Regions from separate parts of the Homo sapiens genome. Here region 1 is linked to region 2. The links come from fine-mapping of genetic effects on gene expression. A gene starts in region 2. The other region holds a variant in brackets. All regions are shown on one strand. Distances are from middle to middle.

Evidence for each region.
Region 1: its variant is fine-mapped to the expression of PHACTR2 in whole blood (TOPMed, PIP above 0.99).

Annotation. Positions count from the first base shown.
Region 1 is chr6:143,531,495-143,544,198 of GRCh38, reverse strand. It overlaps a transcript of PHACTR2 not described here. Among named protein-coding and RNA genes, the nearest start is that of FUCA2, 26 kb to the right of the region's middle. RefSeq lists an enhancer at 4,962-5,011 and silencers at 6,845-7,204, 7,225-7,654, 9,241-9,330. The variant C/A (reference allele first, on the strand shown) is at 7,420.
Region 2 is chr6:143,670,542-143,683,245 of GRCh38, reverse strand. PHACTR2 (phosphatase and actin regulator 2) reads right to left here and starts at 5,281. Exons shown (of 13, transcript NM_001100164.2): 1 at 5,037-5,281. The coding sequence starts at 5,082. RefSeq lists a silencer at 5,040-5,339 and an enhancer at 5,089-5,937.

The sequences.
Region 1 (12,704 bases), 140 kb after region 2:
AAGGCAGGTCAAAGAATTTCTTTACGGCTAGTTCCTACACAAAAAGGCAGGGCAAGTTTAGAGTAACATTCCTAGTTTCTACAACCCACCTCAGGGAAGAGGAATTCTAGTCTCTGTGGCCTGCATTTTGGGAGAAAGGGGAACAGAAGATAGGAGGTCAAGAGAAGGGCAAGAGAAGGTCAGAGAGAGGCTTTACTTCTGAGGCCCTTCCAATGTCCTTCAGTTAGAAATACTCAGCACATCAAAGCACCACGCTTTGCGGTATTGTTTTCTGAGCCCTGACAGTCCCAATCTCAGTTGTCTGTGCTCTTTCTACCATTGTCTCTGTCTTTCAGTGTTCATGTCAGAATATACTCAGAATATATCCATATCAAACTTGCAAATGCCTAAATTGTGTCTCCCAGGAAAAAGGCAAACACAGCAACCTCCCATACTCAGTCTCTGCCCAGCTCTCTACTCTCCCTTCTCTCCCAAAAGAACCCTGCTCAGAGCCAAAAGCAACTGCTGAGTGTTTTCTGATTATGCCAGTTTGTTTCAGGCCTTTTACATGTACTGTTTCCCATCCCCAAACACTCTTCCTCCCCAACCCAACTCCATCTTTCAGTTCCTCCTTTTGCATAGAGATAGCCCAGGTTTCACCTCTTGCCAGAGGCATTTTCTCCCCACAGCCATTCCCTATAGCCGACCATCCTAGGTTCTCCCCCAGGCCCAGGACAGGGCACTAATCATAGCTTATACTTTATTGCACTGTGGTCTTTGGCTTATTGGCCTGTCTTTCCCCACTAAACTGTGAGTTCCTGAGGGATGTCTTTGCAACCTTTGTGTTAGCTCACTAGCCATTTGTTGATTGAAAGAAGAAATGAAAAATCAAGATATGCCCTTGCCTACAGCATCTTCATCAGTACGTAGGGGCCAGAATAAATCCACGGCTTTAATATCTGTCTCAGAGCTGCCACTGAGGTACTGACACAAACTAGAGCTTAACTAGTTTAAGTAAATTAGCTCTTCATGCATCCTCTGAAAACAAGAACAGTCATCATCATCATCATGTTATTTACTGAGCATGATGCAAGGCCTATAGCTTAGATCACCAGAGACACTGCTGTGTCTGGCCTGCCACACCCTTTCTGAGTATCCTCTCTGCTTTCAGTCTAACTCCAGAATCACAGAATCACATCTGCTCACCTTTGTATGCCCAGTGCCTGGAACAGTACCTGGCACATAGCAGTAATCAATAAAGACTAATTGAATGAATGGACGAATGGAAACTGGCCAGGCTCAGTCCCTTCTACATGGCCATGTTGGCACTGTGACTTCATGCTCCACAACTGGTTTCGGCTCCAGTGAGTATCTGATCAAAGGCAACAAATCCAGAGGCACCTATGGGGCATATGATCTCTGTCTTGCTGTATAAAGGTGGCTTCACACAATAGGTCTTTTCTAGAGAATTTGAACTATGAAATATGAAGAAATTTTCCCCAGGTAAACACAAGGCAAGAGCTAAAAGGAAACAGAGGAAGATTGCTGTCAGGTAGGTAGGACCCCTGATGTGCCATTTTAAGCAGATGGATGAGGAAACACCTATGAAGGAGAGATAATCTGTTTTGATTAGAGAATAAGAAAGCTGGTCAACAGAGAGACAAACAGAAGCTCAAGCCTGCTGAAACCATGCCAGCCTAGGAAAGGGCTAGAGAAAGAGGAATTGGTTGCCTCAATTCCTGACAACTCTCTGGTGTCAGCCCCAGGTCAGGTGCAATCTGACCTAATAAGGACCTCCTGACTTAACAGGTGAAGCCAATTTTTCAAATGTGCCAAGCTCTGATACAGGACTGTCATCAGCTGCTATGGTAACTTGGTAAGAATCAGATAGGAGATGCCCCTTCTGGAATGAAGCCTGACCGGCGGTCAGGCTCCTGGGTAGATGAGAAGCCCATGGCTTTTGTGCAAAGAAAAGGGTGCTCTCCCTGGGGGAGAAGGAAGGCACACATGTCCACACCAGGTACACAGCTTGACCTGGGCAAAGCGCAGGCTGGACCTGAGCCCACCAGCACCTGCTCCATCCAGCACCCTCTTGTACTGTCCGAGCTGGCCTGGGCAGGGTGGCCTTGCTATTCCCTGACCAGGGAGAGACAGAAAGTAAACTTAGAACCAGATGGTCTTTGTTTGGAAAAAAACCCACTCTGAGTTACACAAATGTAAAGTGAGCAGGTGTTCATTGTTCCTGGCCTAGGGCACCTCCAGCTTAGCTCGTGGCTGGGGCTCAGAAGCCTCTTGGGACCCAGACACCCTTTCGGAGCACAAAGCATCAACTCAAAGAGTTACAACCTTGGAGGTCAGTAAGAAACATAGTAGAAGCACCAGCAAGGGATAAGCAAGCACAAGCTTCCCCCAACAGCACAGGTGACCCAACAGCAGAACTGGTCTTGGACAGCAGTATCTCATGGAAGTGGCCAGGAAGCAGTGCATATGAACTGATAGTACATTGAGGTATGCGAGATTTCTCACTTCCACTCAGCACTGAACACACCAGGAATTAAAGATTTGAGAAAAAGATCCTGGATTTGCTGTTACCCCTATGCCTATATATACCAGGGCATAGGGATACTGAAGAGATGAATCACAGTAATAAAAAGATGAGATTGTACTTGCACATTAAGCTAATGAAGTGGTCCACACACCTATACTGCTTTTTTTGGAGGTGGCTTGAATGGTTCTCTGATCTATGCAGCCCAATGTGCAATGTGCAAGACTAAGCATCATCACATGAAAATAAAAACATCTTTTGGTCCTCCCTATAGCCCACACAGGTCCAGAACAGCACCTGGCACCCAGTAGGCCAACAGTCGGTACTTGCTGAATCTTTACATGGTCTATGCCCCTGGCTGTGTGTCTTCAGGTTCTTTACTTACTAAACACTGTGCTTATCAGAACAGCACATCAGAAACCACTAAAAAGTTATCAAAGCTCCTTAATACCGAACAGGATCTGTCTAAAACTTAAGAGAATACATGACCATATACTATGAGAACCTTGTTTCAAGATTTTACTTTAAAAATTGAGTTAAACATCACTTTATTTACAAAGAAATACTGGATTTTAAAAATCCAAGGCTGGGAGCAGTGGCATGCGCCTATAACACCAGCTACTCAGGAGGCTGAGGCAGCAGGATCCCTTGAGCCTCAGGGTTTGAGGCTGCAGTGCACTATGGTTGTACTGGCGAACAGCCATTGTACTCCAGCTTGGACAACACAGCAAGACTCCATCTCAAAAAAAGAAAAATAAATTCAGAACTTTTGTTGAATTCCAGAAGTGTGAGTTCAAAAACCATATGGCAAAATGAATCCACGTTTTTATAAACATAATAAAAGAGTTTATTCATAAATTCCACTGTTACTTCAATTCTATCTTTAAAAATTGCTTATTTGAAAATATTTTGTTTTCTTAACTTTTTTGTATAGATTTTGAAATATAAAACTGGCTTGGGTTTTTTTTTTCTGATAAAGCACTTGCATTCTTATGTGAAAAATTCCTCAAGCCACAAATTAAATAAAATCCCTTGAAGTCTGAGACGCTTGTCTTGACAAAAATCTAGTAATAATCTAGCATAGTCAGGGGAAGCCGATTCTCTTGGGGTACCCTCACGGTATTTATCAACACAGTGCTAGCACAGAACAGGTCTTTAAAAATATATATTTAGTATTAGACTGACTGTTTGCAGCAGTGGGCAAGATTTTAGAGGCTGAGTTCCAAGTTTTTATTATTCTTTCCTGGAAAGAAGGATGGAGGTGGAGCTGTGGGGGAGGCTGGGGTAATGATTGCAGGTAGCAAGGATGGTCTGTCGTTCTGGAGGGAGGCTGTTCTCTGACAACTCTTGGCAAGCACTCTTTCTTCCCCTTCCTCTTCTCCATTTCAGGTCACTGTCACTGCAAAAGGTGATTTCCTTTTCCCCTCAACACTCTTCTAAGGACCCACAGCAGGGAGTTAACTCATGATTAGAAATTATCCCTTAGGAAGAACATCTGACAACTAGCTGGAATCAAAAATAGGAGCAAGGAAGGCTGCTTGGGAGACTGCAGTAGTAGAAGAGAGGATGTAGCAATAGGGATGTGAGAAGGTACTAAAACAAATTCTTCAAACTTACACTTGTATCACGGTATCACAAGACATACGGCAGCAAGCCAGGGTGACATAATATGGCACAGGACAGCAGTTCTCAAACTTCGCTACTCATTAGCGTCATCTAATGGCCAGGATGCACCTGATGCCAATGAAATCAGAATCCCTAGGTGTGCGACCCAGCCACAGGTTGCTTCGTTGTTAACTCCCCAAGCAATTCCTACGTGTAGCCAAGTTTGAAAACCAGTGTGGGAGAGCAGCACTTTTCAAACTGCAAGGTGACTAAGAACAACCTGGGGATCTTATTAAAATGCAGATTCAGTTAAGCAGGCCTAGGGTGGGGCCTGAGATTCTGAGATGAGGCCACAGATGCTGGTCCGGGGCTGTTTTGGCAAGCCACACATGACCTTGCTCTAGGTGCTGCCTCTGTGTGTGCCCAGAGCTTCTGGAGAAGGGCTGGAAATTGGGCTACTATAGTGTTAGGCCAAGGAATGTTTTTACAAGGCGTGTAACCCTCTTATTGTGCCTCTGAGATAATTCAGAGATCCCAGCACAGTCATCTTGCTGATTCTCAGATCCATCCTGCATGGCTTACAGAGGCTGCAGAGGCTGTGGGGCATGCTGGAGAAATACTCTGTGTGTCAGTGAAGGACCTGCTCATTCTTTTTCTCTCTGACTCTAAGAGCAGGGAGCTCCTGATCACATTTAGTCTGCTCTTAAAGGGATCCGAGGCTCAGTTCTGAAAATGAAATCAGGTACATGAAAGATGTTCACTCTTCTACATCTGTGCCAGCATCCTGCGGCACATGGGACAACTGAGCTGAAAGGTTTCACTTCCTAGCATCCGTTAAGAGGACACAGAAAAGACAAAGAGTCCTCAGAAGTAAAATAATTTTATAAATTGGAGCCCATGGTTCACATGATGTACACTTTGCACACTCACATTTTAAATGTCTTTGCTGTCCTTTTTCGGCATACAGGCCATAATTTCCATCCATGAAAATGAAAAATGGCGATGCAAGCTATACTTTGTCTACAATCACCAACTAGGTGAATTCTCAGTGGTCTCTTTAGAGTCTCTGAACAGTTAATCTTTGTAGAAATCAATCAAAATAATCCATGGCTCGAGTTCAGTTTGGCCAGCACACCAAGAGCAGGTGGTTAAAAACATTCGGACTCAATGCTTTTCACAATACAAATTCAGAGGATGAATCTTTACACAAATCCCACTACCTCTATTCTAACAGTTCTGACTTGTTTCATCCAATGCGATCTACAAAGTCACAACGGCAATGCTTTTGAGGTTTTTCAAGTACACATGTTGGGCGGCAAAAACAATATGACAAGAATAAGAAGACAGAAGGCTATGGTGAGAGAGTTAGCCAGCTGAAGTGGAGTCAGAGGCATGGAAATGTGCTTTTTTGAACAGGAAGCTCAGCTTTAGCTGAGGTTGAGTTAGAACCCAAAGAAGGCCTGATCCCGGAGCACAGAGCCTGAAAACCAGGGCAGTGGTAGCTGGTACAGTGCACGTTCACGCCCCGGCAGGGCTTTTGCCGCTATGGGTAGTTTTTGATGCTAGCTAGCTTCATTTCTAATTTCCCAGCTCCCATGCATCCTACAAAGATTGCACATCAGACAACTGGTGGAAACTTGACGCATCTGGTGGACTTTTAAAAAACAGTCCTACAATTCTTAGGCTAATGCTTTGTTCAAAAGCAGTTTAAAATGATTACTTAATCCACATAACCTCCCAATGTGGTGGTACCATACTATGATTCCCACTCTGAATACTGAGATAGGAGAGACAAGGTTAAGTGATTTGCCCAACGTCACACAACTCGGCCGGCAGCATCGGCCTTAGCTGAGTTCCTGATTTCGTCGGTCCCGGTGCACGGGGCACAGGGCAGCCTCTGAGAACACATGGGCCGGTGCTACCGCAGAGGGGCTAGCTTGAGGCTTTTGTGTGTTTGTGTGTGTGTGTGTGTGTGTAAGACGGAGTCTCACTTTTTCATTCAGGCTGGAGTGCAGTGGTGCAACCTCTGCCTCCCAGGTTCAAGCGATTCTCCTGCCTCAGCCTCCTGAGTAGCTAGGACTACAGGCATGCGCCGCCTCGGCGGCTAATTTTTTGTATTTTTAGTAGGGACGAAGTTTCCTGACCATGTTGGCCAGGCCGGTCTCGAACTTTTGACCTCAAGTGATCGGCCGGCCTTGGGCCTCCCAAAGCTCTGGAATTACAGGCGTGAGCCACCGCTCCTGGCCGAGGCTTTTTCAAAACATGTTAAAGGATGAGAGGCACAAACAGCCCGCCAAACTCTCCCCTGCTCTCCCCCATTAACCTCATGGGTTTTTGCAAGGAGGAAAAACTCATATCCCGGGTCCTCTTACCAGCAACCCGCAAAAGGCGTCTTTATTTCAGAACCATAAGCAGTTAGTTGGGAAGCCTCCCAAGACCTGCCCTGGTCCCAGCCCGCAAAGTGAGGGAACCGCACCCTTCCGAGGGACCAAAGTCGCGCCGAAGACCGAGAATGTTCCTCTTTCTGATGGAAAAGCCTCGGAAGCCAAGCTGCGGTGCTGCCTGGCGCCGTGCAGCCGAGAGGGAGCGCTCCCTACCCCAACCCAGGCTGCACACTCGCCCCGCAAGGCGCACCAAGCCGTCGCCTGCTTTTAGCATCTTCCGCCTAGGGTCGCCGAGCCCGGGCGGCCGAGGAGGCGGCAGTGTGGGGAGTTCAGCCTCCGCCCTCCCCTGTCCCCCACCCCCACCCCGCCGCCAGCCTGCCGGGCCAGTGCCCGCGGGCGCCCCGGGTTGGCCGCGTCGCCCTCGCGGCCACCTGCCCGCGGCCGGCCCTCCCCGGCCCGCGCCCCGAGCCGCTCTTACCTGAGCCGGAGATGTGGACCCGGAGCGGGCGGCCCCTGCTCGAGGACGACGAGAGGTCGCTCTGTGAGCGGCCGCGGGGGCTCGGGTCCCCGGGAAGCCAGCGCAGGGCAGGCGCCGCCGGCGGGGCGGGCGCCTCGGGCTCGGGGACTGGGACCGCCGCCGCCTGCCCGGCCGGATCGACCGGGGACGCCGCGGGGCGCCAGCCCGCCTCGGCCATCGGCTCCCGGCGGCGGGGCCGGAGCACCGGGTGGGGCCGGCGCCGAGGGCTGCGCTGCCCGCTGCTGCCCGGCTCTGCCCCGCGCGCCGCGACCCGGAGGCAGCGAGAAGGGCGGGGAGGTGGACGCCGGGCGCCGAGGAGCCGGTGCGGAGGGCGGGAGGAGGAAGAGGACAGAAAAGTTTGCACAGGAAGGAGCCGCCTACAGCCGGCT[C/A]TCGCTCCAGCGGGCGAAAGCTGCAGGGCTCGGAGCTGGGCCGCCCTCGGTGCCCGCGAACCTGCCCGGCTGCTCCTCCCCCAAGCCCCGGGCACTGGCCCCCGGCAGGATGGCAGCAGGGGGTCCCCTCCGCGAAGCTCTGTTCACCCAGCAATCCGGCCGCAGAAAAGCCGAGTTTGGGCTTCTGGAGCTGGGATGCAAGGTCAGAGCTAACGATATCATTTCCATTGTGGTGGGTGGGGGTGCCATGTACACATACGTGAGCTGCCCTATGATGGAGCAAGAATGATCATACCCAGTTAACAGATAGGAAACTCCGGCGCAAAAATGCATTGCACTTGCCGGGTGGATTAGGGGCAGATTCTGGAGTCCCTTGTGAAGTGAAGCCTAATGCCCTTCCCCATCCGCACCCACACCCCTTGCCCTCAAAGCCCATCTCTACCTCTCACGGTTGCCCACATCCCTGGGTATCTGTCTGCTGGGTGTAGGGAGCAAAAAATAGCTTCCCTCCACCCTTCTAGGTTCTTTGGCTGGCCTATGAATTAAACTGCCATAAGGCAGATTAACAGGACAAAGAAAACCCATTTTAATTACCAACGTTCACATGGGAGTTTCACAAAATATGAGGCTCAAAGGGTCAGATGATTGAAGCCTGTATAGCGTCCTGAGTTACAGAAAAGAACAGGATCTTGGAATTTGGGGGGCGGGCAGGTGACACAAGTTATGGGAGGGTCGGGGAGGAAGTGTATAAAGAATAAAGGTTGTCTCGTGCAAATTTTAAAAAGCTGATCAGGTAATAAGGAGTTGTTTTCTAGCGGAAGCATAGGTGTTAATCTGTCTGGGCCTGCTGTGATCCCAGATTTTTCCATTCCTGACAGATGAATTCCTATTAGAGGATCTGCCTTTTTTTGGGGAGGGGAAGGAGTTTCACTCTTGTGGCCCAGTCTGGAGTGCAATGGCTTGATCTCGGCTCACTGCAACCTCTGCCTCCTGGGTTCAAGTGATTCTCCTGCCTCACCCTCTCCAGTAGCTGGGATTACAGATGCCCGCCACCACACCCAGCTAATTTTTGTTTTTTGTTGGGTTGGTTGGTTGGTTTTTGTTTTTTAGTAGAGACAGGGTTTCACCATGTTGGCCAGGGTGGTCTCGAACTCCTGACCTCAGGGTGATCCACCTGCCTCCGCCTCCCAAAGTGCTGGGATTACAGGCTGAAGGATCTGTCTTTAGGCAGATAAAAGGAAGTTCGGAGAAAGCTCCTTCTTGCAATTGCCTTCCCCAAGCACCCTCAGTTTGAAGTAACCAGCCTGCCAAAGCAGCGTATTTTGGAGCAGCATTTTCTGAACTCCTTCATAAGTAAATACTCAAAGGTCATGTTTAAAAAGCCAGTCTTCCGAGAACTAAATAAATATCACAGATTTGATGTCTGAGTCAATGCTTTCTAAAGGAAAGGCAGCTGCATTGATTAGAAATATCTTAGTTAATGCCACACCTTGTAGGATTTTGCAGAATGAGCAGTGGAGATTATGCTGATTCAGCTGGTGATTTCAAAGCCTAAGCTTTATCAATCTCACGATTAGGCCCCCAAGTTGTGACTCGCCCAGAATTAAAAGACTGTAAGTCAGGCTCAGGAGTCATCAGTCCTCTGAAAGTTCATGGCAAAGGAGGAACGTCCCTTGGTTCACCCACAGACCATAGATAGCCAGTGAGAAGAGATGGAGATATGGGGGGAAAGAAGGGACAGCGCTGGCAATTACTCCTGTTAACACACACACCCCGATTCTAGGTGCTATGTCAGGCATTTTGCACGTATTATATCATTTAATAAGAGAACAAACCTAATCAAGAAGGTAAGAGAAAAGAGGAACAAAAACCAAGAGTACATGCTGCAGAAGCACACCGACACGCACAAAGGCCTTAGTAGCAACTAGGTCATGATACACACACACACACACACACACACACACACACACACACACACACAGCTCACCCTTGATCATTTAAAAGGGCTTTCACTTATAATTCTCACAGGAACTCTGTAGGGAAGATATGATTATTCCATCTTTGCTGCAAAAACTGTCCAAATATAGGCTAAGCATGGTGCTGCAACAACTGTCCAAATACAGGCCAGGCATGGTGGCTCACACCTGCAGTCCCAGTATTTTGAGAGGCTGAGATGGAAGGATCCTTTGAGGCAAAGAGTTCATATCCAGCCTGGGCAGTATAGCAAGTCCCCATCTCTGCAGAAATTAAAAATAAAAAAATTTTAGTCCAGCTGGTGAGGCAAGCCTCTAGTCCTAGCTACTCGGGAGGCTGAGGAAGGAGGATCGCCTGAACCCAGGAGTTCAAGTTTACAGTGAGCTATGGTCATGCCACGGCACACTAGCCTGGGCAACAGTGCAAGAGCCTGTCTCAAAATAAAATGAAATAAAATAAAATAAAATAGCAAAACTAATAAATCAAATCTGTCCAAATACAGGCCCCTTTTCACAAAGTCAGCCAATGTTGTCTGGTCTTGCTCTAAATATTTGCTACTAACAGTCTGTTTAAATTTATACTACTCCAAATGTGACCTTACTTTCTTGATATCTTGTGTAGTTTATGATAGGAAAAAAAGGTATCTCTGCCTTTAGAGAATTCACTATGCGTTACTTTAGACAATAGGTCATCGATAAGATTGAGAGTGCACTGAGATGGATTTTACAGTTACCCTGAATAACCAGCATTAGATTACAATGGCATTTCTCAGCACCGTTTGCTATCTAGTGTATTGTATTACCTGATGATGCTGTCTGTATTCCCTCAGTGCACTTCCTCAGCAAGAAGCTCCCCCTTCACAAGCTGCCTTCTCTCTGGGGCACACATTCCAGTTGCCTATGCCTGGGTCTCACCCCAATTTTCTCTCCCCATTGCTTACAACATGAATGTTCATACATTCTTCTGGACTGCATGCTTTTTCCTTTTCTGGTTAATCTTCTGTGTCCTCTCTTGTGAAGAGAGGAATTAAATGAGGAATTAAATGCTTTCAAATACAAGAAGTCTTCTCTGACTCATTTTTCAGTTATTTAGCAATTCATCATTTCAACTTTTATTAGATAATTACATATTTGAGTGCCTTTTTGGGCCAGGCACTGTGCTAGGCTCTCCATATCGTCAAGGAACCTCTCAGCCCAATATTCCTCCATTCATTTTCCCATGACAGTCAATCTTCTACAGAGAGTAGCGTATACTCCAGAAGCTATTCCCAAGTTCTTACAGTCCCCCTTCCCCATTCATTCTTCTACCATCTGTAGTATGACTACTGCTCGCCCTACTGCATGGAGCTGCTTTAGCAAAGATCACATCTGAGCAGCTCATTGTCAAATGTACTGGGAACCTCTCAGGTCTTACTTAATCTGATGTCTTCTGTCGCTTTTAACACTCTCGACCACTGACTCGTTTTGTGGGCTCTGCTTCCCTGGTTTCTAGGACACTCATCTCCCCAGGTGTTCCTTCAGCCCCTCTGCTTCCTTGTTACCCTCTTGTCAGGGTCTCTTTTTTCCATCTGCCCATAGGTACTGTTCCCCAGATGTCCAGCATCAGCCCTCTTCTCTTCCCACTTGACTTGTTTCTCCTGGGAGATCCCAGCTTCGGCTTTGACTTACACACAAATGACTCTCTCCACCCCAGACCTCTCTCCTGGGCTTCAGATCCCAGCATCTAGTTGCTTCCTGGGCTTCCCTTCTTGATGTTTCATTGACATTTGGCAGTCAACACTCCCTGAGCTGAACTCCTCCTCCTCCTCCTCATGAACATGCTCTGTCTATTCTCTTAGATAAATAAATATCTTAATACCTTAAATAAATATCCTCAGAATCGGTTTCCTCCCTGCTATTCCATTGCCACCTCTTTAGTTTGAGCCTCCATCTTCTATTTTCTCCTAAAGGAACTCTCTATCTCCATACTCACTTTCTTCTACTCTGCCCCCATCCCATTTCTGGAATGATCTTTCCAAAGTACTCACAAGACTTCGCTACCCCTCCATTTTAATTCCCTCAAAGCAAGTGTCTATGAATATACACAGAATAAAGTGTATATTCCTCAGCATGGCATATCAGGGTTCCGTACCCTACCCCAAACTCTTTCCTTGCTGCTGTTATACATACTGTGGCGGCTCAGGACACAACACCTCAAAATATGACTGTAGGAGGCCAAAATATGCCACTCTGGGATATACTTCTTTGGCATATTTTGAGCGGGTTATTCTGAGAAACTGCAGACACAGGAGTAGCTCTGAAAAGCTGTCCTTTGGTAAAAGAAATTTACTTCTGTAAAGGAAAACAATTTTTTAGGATTCTCATCAACCAGGGAAGATCTTATCATAGAAGATGAGAATGAAGGTTGACACCTTGCCCAGATGGACTTTGTCACAGGCTGATACAGATTCTTCTGATAGGCTACTCTGAAACAACTTTTATTACCCGAGAGAATTTTTATCTGCACAATAAGACAACCTTTGTTTGCCACACATTTCCTCCCCTCACCCTCCCATGATGTGTGTCACCACCACTCCCAGAAGCACCAAGCCCCTCTTGCTTTCTGTAGCTCAGGGATACTATATGAGCTTCAATCATCTGACTCTTCTTCCAGTCTCAGATTTTGTGGGACTCCTGTGCATATATACATAATTAAATATGTTTTTTTCCTGTTAATCTGCCTACTGTCCATTTTTCATAGACTCAATTATCACACCCTCAGAGGGCAGAAAATCTTCCCTCTCTGCACAATACTCCACTCCCTAGCCATGCAGACCAATTCATCATTCTCTGAATGGCACCTCCTCTTCCTCTCGGGGTGCCTTTGAACTCCCGTTTCCTTTGTCTGCAGCATCATCCCCCGCCTTCTCTAGCATGACCTAATTGACCAACTGTCACTCATCCTTCAAGCCTCAGGTCAAGCGTCTCCTCATCTGTCTTAGTTTGTTTTCTGTTGCTTCTAATAGAATACCTGAAAGTTAGTAATTTATAAAGAAAATGAATTTTCCTTATAGTTATGGAGGCAAAGTCCAAGGTCAAAGGGTCACATCTTGGTGAGGGCCTTCTTGCTGGTGGGGACTCCCTGCAGGGTCCGGAGGTGGTGCAGGGCATCACATGGCGAGAGGGCTGAGCGTATTAGCTCATGTCTCTCTTCCCCCTCTTATAAAGCCACCAATCCCATTCCCATGATAAACCCATTAATCCATGAATGGATTATTCCATTCATTAGGGCAGAGCCCTCATGATCTAATCACTTCCTAAAGGTCCCACCTC
Region 2 (12,704 bases):
ATCCAATCTACCATGCTCTACACTTCACAATGAAATACTAGAAGTCTCAATCCTCCTAGGGCATGATGCCAGAGGGTACCGAAACCATCCTATTTGAGGGCATATCGTTTTAGCCTGTACTTAGAAATAATGGATCCAATTCTCAGTAAAATACTTTTGTAAACCTAACCCAGCAACATACAAAAAGGATTATACACATTACCCAAGTGGGATTTATCCTAGGAATGCAAGGTTGGTTTAACAACCAAAAATCAATTAACGTAACATGACAAATGAATAGGATAAAGGACAAAAACCATATGATCACCTCAATAGAGGCAGGAAAAACCTTTGACAAAATTGAACAATCTTTCATGATAAAAACACTGACAAAGTAGGAATAGCAGAGAACTTTTTGACAAAGTGAACCTATGAAGAAACCCATAGCTAATAGCACAGTTAATGGTAAAAAAAAACAAAAAACAAAAAACAAAAAAACAACTTTTTTTGTTAGATCAGGAACAAGACAAAAATGCTCACAACTGCCACTTCTACTTAACATTGGACTAAAGGTTCTAGCCAGAACTATTAAGTAAGAAAAAAATAAAATAAAAGGCATTCAACTCTAAAAGGAGGAATTAAAATGTTGTTTCTTTGCACATGTAAATAGATCTTGTATATAGTATGATCATGTATATAGAAAATCATAAGGAATCCACTGAAAAACTACTAGGACTAAAAAATGAGTTCAGGCCAGGCATGGTGGCTCATGCCTATAATCCCTGCAATATTGGAAGGCCCAGGTGGGTGGATCTCTTGAGATCTCGAATTTGAGACCAGCCTGGGCAACACAGAAAACCCCATCTCTACCAACAATACAAAGTAGCTGGGCATGGTGGTGGGCACCAGTGGTCCCAGCTGCTCAGGAGGCTGAGGTTGGAGGATCGCTTGAGCCCAGAAGGTTGAGGGTGCAGTGGATAAGCCATGATCGCACCACTGCACTACACTGAAAACTACAAAACATGGTGAAAAGAAAGAAGATACAAAGAAATGGAAAGGCATCTATGTTCATGGATTAGAAGACTTCATATTGTTAAGACAGCAGTACTACCCAAATTGATCTACAGGTTCAATATCATTGCTATCAAAACTCTAATTGGCTTTTTTGCAGAAATTGACAGGTTGATTGCAAAATTCATATGAAAATGTAAGGGAACCAGAATAACCAGTAGAAACTTTTAAAGGAACAAAATTGAAAAACTCATACTTCTAGGTTTCAAAATTTACTACAAAGCTACAGTAATCTAGACATTGTGGTAACTGGCATAAGAAGAGACAATGGAGCAGAATTGAGAATCCAGAAGTAAACCCTTATGTACACAGTCAATCAATTTTTGGCAACGGTGGAACACCATTCAATGGGGAAAGAACGGTCATTTCAACAAATGGTGCTGGAACAATTGGATATTCACATGTAAAAGAATGAAACCCTACATGACGCCATACATAAAAATTAACTCAAAATGTATTACTGACCTAAATGTAACAGCCAAAATTATAAAACGCTTGGAAGAAAACACAGGTGTAAGTCTTCTTGCCTTGGTTAGGCTGTAGTTCTCAGATGTGATACCAAAAACACAAACAACAAAAGAAAAAAATTGATAAACTGCTCATCATCAAAACTTTAAAATTCTGAGCTGCAAATCACTCTACCAAGATGAAAAGACAACCCAGAGAATGGCAGAAAATATTTGCAAATCATGTACCTGACAAGGGATTTGGATCTAGTATACAAAGAACTAAAACTCCAACAGAAGTCAAATTATCCAACTAAAATTAGGCAAAGGATCTGAAGACATTTTTTCCAAAGAAGATATACAAATGGCCAATAGCACATGAAAAGATGCTCAAGGTCATTAGTAATTAGGGAAAAGGAAATCAAAACCATGAGATATAACTTCACACCTACTAAGATGGCTATAATCAAAAAGACAGTAACAAATGTTGGTAAGGATGTGGAGAAACTGTAACTTTCATACACTGCTGGTGGGAATGTAAAATGGTCTAACTTCTTTGGAAACTGTTTGGCAACACCATAAAAGGTTAAACATAGAACTACCTACCATATAATCTAGCAATTCCACTACTAAATATATACCTGAGAAATGAAAACATATCTTCACAACAACTTGTACATTAAGTTCAGAGCAGCATTATTCATAAATAGCCCAAAGCAGAAATAACCCAAATGTCCATCAACTGATAAATGGATAAATAAAATGTGGCATATTCATACAGTAGAATATTATTTGGCAATAAAAAGAAATGAACAACTGATACATGCTACAACATGGATGACCCTTGAAAACATTATGCTAACTGAAAGAAGCCAGTCACAAAATGACACATTATGATTCCATTGACATGAAATGTTCTCAATAAGAAAATCTATAGAGACAGAAAAGTTGATTAGTGTTTCATTAAGGTAGAGCCCACTGGTTGAATAGGGTGGGAACAGAGATTGAGGGTCACACAACACTGTGAACACACTGAAAAACAATGAACTGTACACTTTCCATGGGTGAATTTTATAGTATGTGAATTATACATCAATACAGCTGTTCTTTTTAATAATGGATCTAACTGCATATTTTCAGAAAAAATTATTAATGGTCTTCCTAGAACCCAGAGAATTAGGTGCAACCTAAACTGAAAGGCTCTAGAGAGCCTAAAGTCAAAACGGGGAAAGCAAGCTAACTTCTAGCCTATAATGAAGATTTTTACAAAAGGCCAAATTGAGCGATAAGTATGAATAATTAAACTCTGTGCTATTGATTCCTTTGACTTAAACAGATTTTCGCCCACTAAGCATTTAAGATGAGAATCATCTTTAATACTGTAATCCTAAGCAGCTGCTCCAGACTTAAACAACTAGTCAATGGCTAAGATCAAACAGAACAAGGATCTTCACGCCATCTGTAAAGCCAGAGTTAAACAGTTAACAAGGAGTGAACAAAATACCTGGAATAGTAGAGAGTTTGACAGTCTCAGACTCAGAAAAATACAGACATGAATATAAAACTCAGCAAACGTTATTTAATTTAAATTTTTTTTTTTTTGGTTTTCATTTGGAATCTGATGGCAAACCTTCAGGGAAACAGGGTAGCTCTAACGGATTTAGAGACACTGGATACCACGAGAAAACTGTTCTTTTACAATACCACAACTTAAGTCATAACCACTGTCATTCCTTAACTGAAAAATAAAAAACCCTGTATTTATGATGTATGGATTGGTCATTTCAATTCATACAAACTTTTAATCCGCAAAACTGAGGACCTGCAATTTAAGTATAACACCGTTCCGTGAGATATTTCTCTGAATTATCTTTCATGATCAAGCATAAATTTTTGTTTAAAACACTTTTTACTTAAGTAGATTACAGTTTCTCATTATAATCAGTCATTTTATTTGGAATTATAGCAATCCGGGTTTTTTTGCTGTACTAAGACGTAGGGAGTCTCACTTTAGGATTTTATTTGCTTCTTAGACATCATTTATATAATATTCCTTGATTTTTATTAAGGCAAAATTTGCTTTTCTAATATTCACTCGAGTAATATTTTGTGATAAAATCACTAAATTCAGGACAATACTTTCTGTATACTCTTGTATTGGAGTACAGATTTAATTCTATCTTCGCCGGTGCACAAATGTAAAAATATAACCCTTCCTTGAAATGAAAAGAAGTCTCACACCACTTTAAGGTAAGACAAAGGAAACCAAGTCTTATTTGCACAAAATAGTTTACTAAATTTAAAATCCTACTCAACCCCTCCCCGCAAATATCTCTCAAAAAGCTGTCAACATGAGGTCTTTGATTTCAGAGCTGTAGCCATGTCATTAATGGTAAAGAAGGTATATTCTGATTCTGATGTCTCTTCTTTGCAGAAGGGTCTTCTGTGGTATTAACAGAAACCTCAGCAAAGCTTGTGGTATCTCAGGGAGTGAAGCTGTGCTACCTAAAGAAACCCACTGGGTATAAAGTGGGGTGGGGGGTTGGAATGACAGAATGCTATCTAGCTAGACATCCTGAGGCAGATTAAAAAACCTTCCTCTGTACCCTGTCATTTCCTTTCAGCAAGATCCTGTTGATGTTTGCACAATTTAAAAAGTGTATCAAATATCTCAATGAGTAACATAAACGGTCCCTTCGAGTATTATTTATTTTTAATCGTTGATGGAAAAATATCAAAATAGTACCTTTTAAATTTATTTCCTTATCCAATCACAAGTAACACCACCAAACAGTTTTTTTTTTTTTTATCCCTACACTGTCGGGGAAATGCCAGACGTACCTTCCTTCCCTCTTTTTGTTTAAGAAAATGGAAAAAAGAAACTTTTAAAACAGAGCATTAGAACTCAGACACGTTACACACGTCTCCATAAAACTAACTTTAGTCCTGGAGAACTAAGTTCATGAGATATGTTTCCCTAAATGTTATAGCTGCTGTATCTACTATAAACAAAACAAGTCTCATTTGAAACAATTACGCATTTCGGGGCTAGTTATTAAGTATTCAGCGTCTGCCAGGATAAGGCGATCAGCGCTTCTACTCCGAATAACAAACCATAAATCAGTTGACAAGCTTGAAAGCATTCAGTCCTAGTCTGTTCGGAAGCCAAGCGTAAATACAGAAAAACCTGTTGGCATGTTTCTCTTGCTCTCTAAGTTTCGCGTTTTTAAAAACACTGTAATACGCAAATGGCGTTTCCCGTAAGTTTCTGGCTCCGAAATAATTTGGATAAAAAACCACAGCGAGGCATCGCGCACAGAAAAATGGAGCCTGTGCCTTTAAGGTAAAATCGGCTGGATCCCAAAAGGCATTCCTCTTTCACGACAAAGAGTTTGGCGAGCGCTACCTCTGGGGTTTCTCCGAGGGACTTGGCGGGTCCGAGCGGAACCCGACCAGACGACTAACCCTGCCTGCCCCGGGGCCCCGCCGCCAGCCCTGCGCCCGCGCGGCGGGAGCGCATCGCGTGCGCCCCGGACTCACCGCTGCCGGGCTGCGGGGACAGCGTGGACACCGAGGTCTGGCCCATGACTGGGGTCGCAGGGCCAGGTCCAGCGATCAAGCGGCTCCTTTGGTCCTTCGATCATGGGTCCGCTCCCAGCCAGACTTCCAGGCGTTCATGTCCCGGCCTGTGCCGAGCGGCCCGCCGGGTCCCCTCACCTTCTACCCCGCGCGGGTCTCCCAGCCCGGCCGGCCGCAGCCGGCGCGGCGGATCCTGCCCAGCGGATGCCTGTCATTCCTCTATGCAGATTAGCTGGGGTCAGGGGTCACGGGGGAAGAAGGGGGGTGAGGGCGATAGGGAGGGGAGGAGGGGGAAGCGGGGGGAGGGCGCAGGAGCAGGGGGTGGGGGAAGCCCCCAGCCGGCCCCGCCGCACCCGCACCCCCTCAGGGTGGTAGGGAGTTCAGGCTTTCAGACTACTCCTCTTTGACTTAAAAGGTTCAAAGTCAAATGATCCTTACGGGCTACAAGAAAAGGAATTAAAGTATTTAGTCACGGTACTTAATTTAACAAAATTTGTTTCTTAAAAGTTATTTCCTTCCTTACATTCTATTTGCAGTATTGTGGCACTCTCATGTCTTGTGCCCATTTTTTTCTCGTTTTAAAAATTATCTTCCTTTTAACAAATATAATTTTTTAAAAACGGCACTAATGGCCTCAATCAGGCTTGACAACAAATCTAAATGGTAGGTCTACGTGTGAGATCAACAAAATATACTTTTTGCTGTCTCCCACCTAAAACTCTGGAGTGCTGACCTCTCCTTTATTTCAAAAGAATTACTGTGAAATAAAGTGATTAAAATACACAAAAGGGGAAAAAAACTATAACAAACTTGAAAGGTGAATTAAACCCTTCTATAATATCCTGTTAAATCTCAATCTTCTTAAAAATATGAATACAAATAAATATTCTTCATATTTACAGTTAATGATTAATTAGTATAAGTAATCTTCATGCTATATATATATAATGTGTGTATATATATATACAGTATATGGAACATCTGTATATGGTGCATTAGATTGGATGGTGGTTACTGGATGTGTTCATTTTATGAAAATTCATTGAGATGTCTGTAATGATGTGTGCACTTTGCTGAAGGCATATATTTCATTAAAATGTAAAAAATATCAGAAAGTGCAATATATTTAGGTCATTTACCACAGCTTTCATTTTTTAATTTATCCTAGACAATCAACTCTGAACTAACATGAAAATCATTTTTTTCTAAAATTTTTATTATTAAGATCGTGCAGAGCCTTGTTTGATTTTTTTGAAAGGCACTTACTTGTCTGTTTTGTCATGGTTAATTAAGTTGCCCTATGTTTTTTCACACCCAAATAGCCCACCCACCACTGTGAGGAAGATCTTTTCCCTAAAAAAGTGTGATCCATTGTCTTCTTCCCTTTGCCTAATTCACTCTTAAGAAACACTGATTTTTTTTTTTTTAATGAAATTGAGGATTTAACCAAAATGTGAGTTCTAATTAGGACAATAAAATTAATCCTAACTACATTTCCTTATAAATACAAAAATGTGTTTTGGAAACACATCCCACCTGGGGCGCTAAGCGATGAGAGTAAGCAATTATAATGGCTGGCTCCTCCAGCTCTTTGCTTTGAGTTGCCGTAAGAAAAAAACAAACAAACAAAAGTGGTTAAAGGTAAGTTAAGAGGGAGAATGTTTCACTCTTCCTTTTGACAGTCTTTCTGATAAAGGGAGGTCACTGATCAGAGGAAATATACAGTACCTTTTGCACATTCAAAATATGTAACTGTAATAATTTTTAAATACTGATAAAAGTTAAACTTTAAGGTTGCTATCATTTCTTCTTTTCCTTGAGAAACAATAGCATATTTCTATTACTTCTATAAATTCTTATTTCAAAGATCAAGGAGGTGCACTATAGTTCCAGTTTTTCAGGAATTGCTTAATACAGCTATATTTACCTTATTCAAGACCTTTCATGATTTGCTAGTTAATATAATCTTCAGCCTCATCTGGGATTCCTATAATACCCTAACCAGGTTATGCAATTTTCTCTGAAACTCTTCCAGTTCCATTACATTATCCTTGAAGCATGTCAACCAAAACTGCAGGAAGTGTGCACTAAGTTTTCTTTCTAAGAGTGGGACAGTTCTTGTTCTTGGTTTCTAGAGCTTCTGATGGAACTTGGCATTTAAGTGGCCTTTTTATCACAGCTAACAAGTTATACTAATGAACATAGAAAACGTCTACAGAAATCTCTAAATTTCATTTCTAGGTTGTAACGCAAAGGTTAGATATTATCACCTAACAAGAGAATTTTAAGATAATTTTCCCCCAAATTGCCTTACTCTTGCCTTATTAGAACTCACACAGTTTTACTAAGAGTTCTGGGTGTTAATCCCATGGGTTTATAGTTTAACTCTGGAAACATTTAATGTCATCTGAAAGGCATGGACATTTCTCTGTATACTACCTCTCTCTAGGGAATTTATTAAAATGCTAAACAGGATTAGACCCAATACCTAACTCTGAGGAAGCTATCTATTTATAATTCTTCAGCATTTATCCCATTGGTCCCACCCTTTGTTCTCTATTTCTAAACCAATCTCTTATCCAGTGATATCTTGGTAAATGCTTAACTGGTTTGGGCTGGGGGTGAGGAGGCAGGAGGGGGCCTCAGACTGCTTTGTTTACTGTGATGTAAATACTCCTACAATAACCTATTCTACAGGCCTTCAACCAGCTAGCAAAACTGATATCAAACAGCTTGCAAAATTCCTTGAAATGTAACAATTTGGCCCACCAGCCTGTGTGAACTGCCTTCAGCACACCGCTACTTTTCTCTGTTATAATAATGCCGCATCATATCATACCATGGCTGAGTTTGAGGAATAGCTTCTATTTAGCCTTCCTAAAAATATAGACTAATGGCATCTACTGATTTTTTCCATGGAACACTCTAAATATTTTTCAAGCTCTGAAAGAACTACTGTGATTTATTCATTTATTTCCAGAAAGAAACTAAAGAAAGTGAATTAGTGAGATAGAATTTCCCCTTCTGAAAGCCAGTGTGCCTTTATGACACAAAGTTGTACTTATCAGGTTTTCAAGCATTCTACCCTGTAACACAGACTTCACTGGCTTGTCTGATGTGGGAAGTCTTAGACTCACCCACCTGGGGTACCCAAAGTGACACTTGCACTCCTCCTGGATGGAAGCCACTATATCTATTAGGTTAAAGTTAAAGCGGACAAAAGCCTAAACATTGGCAATCTGGACCATTTGTGAGAAAGTTCTTTTCTAGGTCAAAGTCCAAATGGCAGACATACAACTTGGTGCCTTTAGAGAAGATGGTTTACAATTACTACAGTCACCACTACCAAATCCTATAACTTAGGTTACTGCCAGATTTTTCTAGGCAGCCAAATCTAGCCTGGAGCAGGAAGAAGAAGGAACCTTCCTCAGAACACAAATGCCATGAATACTAATCCTGGAGGTCTCTGCCTTGTCCAGATGCTGCCAGCTGTGTGAGGATTCATTTTGAGACACCAGATGTTAGGGGTGGAGGAATTATGATGGGAGGGAAGGGTTAGGCAGAGTCCCAAGAGATGAGATGGTTGATCAGAACAGCAGTGACCTGGGAGGCAACAGTGGTTGATAGTGGCCATATACAAGCAGATGAAGATTACATTAATTTACACCCTTATTTCTAGATTTGACCATAGACACCCTGTGAATTAGTGACATTTCCTTGGCTAATGGGAATTGTAGCAATAGAAAAATTATTTCTTAATGGGAAGGAAATGAATGAAAACTTAGCAGTTTTCCTAATAGTATACTAAAAACGATATGCAAAAGTTGTTTTAACTATTTGGGTAGTTTTTACTAGAAGATCTTCTGGTTTTTAAAAACTTTGTATGTCTTCAAAACTTGGCTACATTTTGTAAGAGTCAGCTTACTTAGAAAAATATAAAAAGCAAATGGGAGCTTTACTAGATAATATAAACTCAGTGAAAACTCTGTATATGTAACTAATGTTTACTTTGTAAAATGTTACTCTATGGTAAAGTTGCAACTAAATGGCTACTATATCTTAGATTTTAACAATTCTGAGAGATGCTGGTTTGAACAGGATAATGCTAACAGATAAAGGAAAACTTTTGTTAAGGAAAGAATTACAACTTTGCATATTCTAGTTATATTAAGCATCAGTAGAAGACCACATTCCACAAGTATTAGAACAGGAAACAAACCTGAAAGACAGGCTTTTCTTTCCTATTGTTCTCATATTTTCATGTGATTTATTTCCTGAGTTTTCCTTCTTCTGCTTGCTCAAGCTAAAAGGATTAACAAAATACCTTGCCTCTGCCTCACCCTGCGTGAGTCTCTGCAGAGGCGGGGTGTGGCTCACGTGTGCTTGCTTAGTGAGTGAGCCCCACAGTTGGAAGATTTATGCTGGAAAATAAAGACCTCAAGGGGTGGTGCTGGAATTTCCTTTTCCAAAGACATTCTCCCTACCCTGGGAGGAAAAGCGTCTGTAATTTTGCTCTACTTCATTTCATAAGCAAAACAAAGTACTCATCCATAGTATTAAAACTCTAAAAACTGCTATAAAATGAATAATCTTTAATTTATTGACCAAAATCTAAAGAGAACAGTCCTTAAAGACATCTTTTATATGACTGCCCAATTTACACAAAATAATTGCTTCCAGTAAGGCCCAAATCTTTGTTTTGTTAACCATCACATCCATCCCTAGAAACTAACAAAATTTGCCTGGCAAATAGAGGGTACTGAATACATAGATGATAAATTAAAAATAAGCATTTATGTTATCTCCTTAATGGTAACTTCCAAGTATGGACAAAAAAAAAAATCTGGGAATACATGTAAAATTTTGGTAATAATATAGAATGTTGACTCCATAGCAAGAGAATATCGAGTCTGTCTGTGACTGTAAATTTTCTTTTGTATGCCCCTCTGAAATAATCATCTACTCATTCACCTAGAATTGACTGAGGACTTCCCATGGGCGTGGTACCTCTAGCACATGGGCATAAGGATAAGTGAGGTATGGACTCTCCTGTGGCGGAGGTCATAGTATGGGTACGGTGGAGGGTGGGTGTTGCAGCCTACAAATACATGATCCTAACAGTGGAGGAAGAGAAGTTTGTTCCTCCAGCTGGGAGTGGTGACTCATGCCTGTAATCCCAGCACTTTGGGAGGCCGAGGTGGGCGGATCACCTGAGGTCAGGAGCTTGAGACCAGCCTGGCCAACATGGTGAAACCCTGTCTCTACTAAAAATACAAAAATTAGCCAGGCGTGGTGGTGCACTCCTGTAATCTCAGCTACTTGGGAGGCTGAGGCCGGAGAATCACTTGAACCTGGGAGGCGGAGGTTGCAATGAGCTGAGGTTGAGCCATTGCATTCCAGCCTGGGCAACAGAGTGAGACTCTGTCTCAAAAAGAAATAAATAAATAAAAATAAAAATAAAAAAGAAGAAGTTTGTTCCTCCAAGTGCTAGGGATGCCCAGTAGGTTAGTACAGAGAAGGCTCTGAACTTTAGCAAATTACTAAATCCACATTTTTGCCACACAGAGGTGCTCATTCATTCTGAAGGTGCCCTAAGATTGTGAAGTGCTTCCTGAATTAAAGAAAGATTAAATTCTAATAGTAGGTGGTCAGAATTAACTGTATTTGTTTGTTTATTGCTTGCAGCTTTTTTTGTTTGTTTTTTGTTTTTGAGACAGCGTCTTGCTCTGTGGCCCAGGCTGGAGTGCAGTGGTATAATCATTGCTTACTGTAGCCTTGAACTCCTGGGCTCAAGCAATCCTCCCACCTCAGCCTCCAGAGTAGCTGGGACTATGGGTGCCTGCCACCATGCCCAGCTAATTATTTGTAATTTTTTTTTTTTTTGTAGAGATAGGGTCTCACTATATTGCCCAGGCTTGCTTGCAGCTTTTTGAAGAATAAGTTATGGACCCTAAAATGTACCCATTTAAAGCAAACAGTTCAATAAGTTTTAATAAACATGTAGTCCAACCAACAGCACACTCAAGTGTCAGAAAACTTTGAGATCCCTAAGGTATTCCATCATGTCCTTTTGCAGTTAATTCCTGTTTCACATCCCTGTACCACCCTTGGCATTAGGGAACTGCCAACCTGCTTTCCATGTCCATACTTTTGATTTATCTAAAATTTCTTACAAATGGAATAATATTATGTACAGTTTTTTTTAATCTGGCTTGTTTCATATGTTTTTGATATTCATCCATGTTGCTCTGTGTATCTGTATTTTGTTCCTTTTTGTTCTAGGTTGCCTTCCATTGTATGGCTATACAAAAGTTTGTTTATCTGTTTACCAGTTAATGGGCATTTGGGATGTAACTGTATTTCACTGTATTCCTGCTCCATGAAAAGACTTTGGGTCTATATTGTGTTACATATATGCTAGTTCTATATTAATAATAACTCATTGATTGGTTCACCACTCAACAAATATTTATTATGCATCTCCTTTTTACCAGTCTTTGTTCTAGGTACTTAGGAGACAGAATTATACAAAATACAAAAACACCTGCACTCATAGAGCTTCCCTTCTAATGGAATGACAGAAAATAAGCAGTAAACATAATAAATCAGTAAACTTTATAACAATTTAGAAGATGAAAAGTGCTATGAAATTCAGAAGAGTAAGAGAGATTGGACTGGCATGTGGTGTTCACAGTTGTCCTCACTGAGAAGATAATGTTTAAGCAAAAACACAAAGGAGGTAATGGAGTTAACCATATGGCTATCTGGGGGAGAGGTGTTCCAAGAAGAAAGACCAGTTAATATAAAGACAGGAGCATGGCATATGTTTGAGGAATCCAGGGGAAATGGTGTGGTTGGAGTACATAGAATAAGAGAGGTAAAGATGAGGAGAAGGAGATTATAACCACATAGGACCTTGCAGTTAACTATAAAGACTTTGGGCCAGGTGCAGTGGTTCAGACCTGTAATCTCAGCACTTTGGGAGGCTGCTGAGGCAGGCGGATCATGATGTCAGGAGTTCAAGACCAGCCTGACCAACGTGGTGGAACCCCATCTCTACTAAAAATACAAAAATTAGCTGGGCATGGTGGCGCATTCCTGTAATCCCAGCTACTCGGGAGGCTGAGGCAGGAGAATTGCTTGAACCTGGAACTGGGAGGTGGAGGTTGCAGTGAGTCGAGATCGTGCCACTGTACTCCAGCCTGGGCTGCAGAGCGAGACTCCATTTCAAAAAAAAAAAAAGGCCTTGGCCTTCTTCTCCTCCAAAGAATCAGAACTCCTCGCCAGCAAGGGAACAAAAATGGATGGAGAATGAGTTTGATGAATTGATAGAAGTAGGCTTCAAAAGGTGGGTAATAAACTCCTCTGAGCTAAAGGAGCATGTTCTAACCCAATGCAAGGAAGCTAAGAACCTGGAAAAAAGGTTAGAGGAATTGCTAACTAGAATCACCAGTTTAGAGAAGAACATAAATGACCTGATGGAGCTCAAAAACACAGCACAAGAACTTCATGAAGATACACAAGTATCAATAGTCGAATTGATCAGGCAGAAGAAAGGATATCAGAGATTGAGGATCAACATAATGAAACAAAGCATGAAGACCAAGATTAGAAAAAAAAGAATAAAAG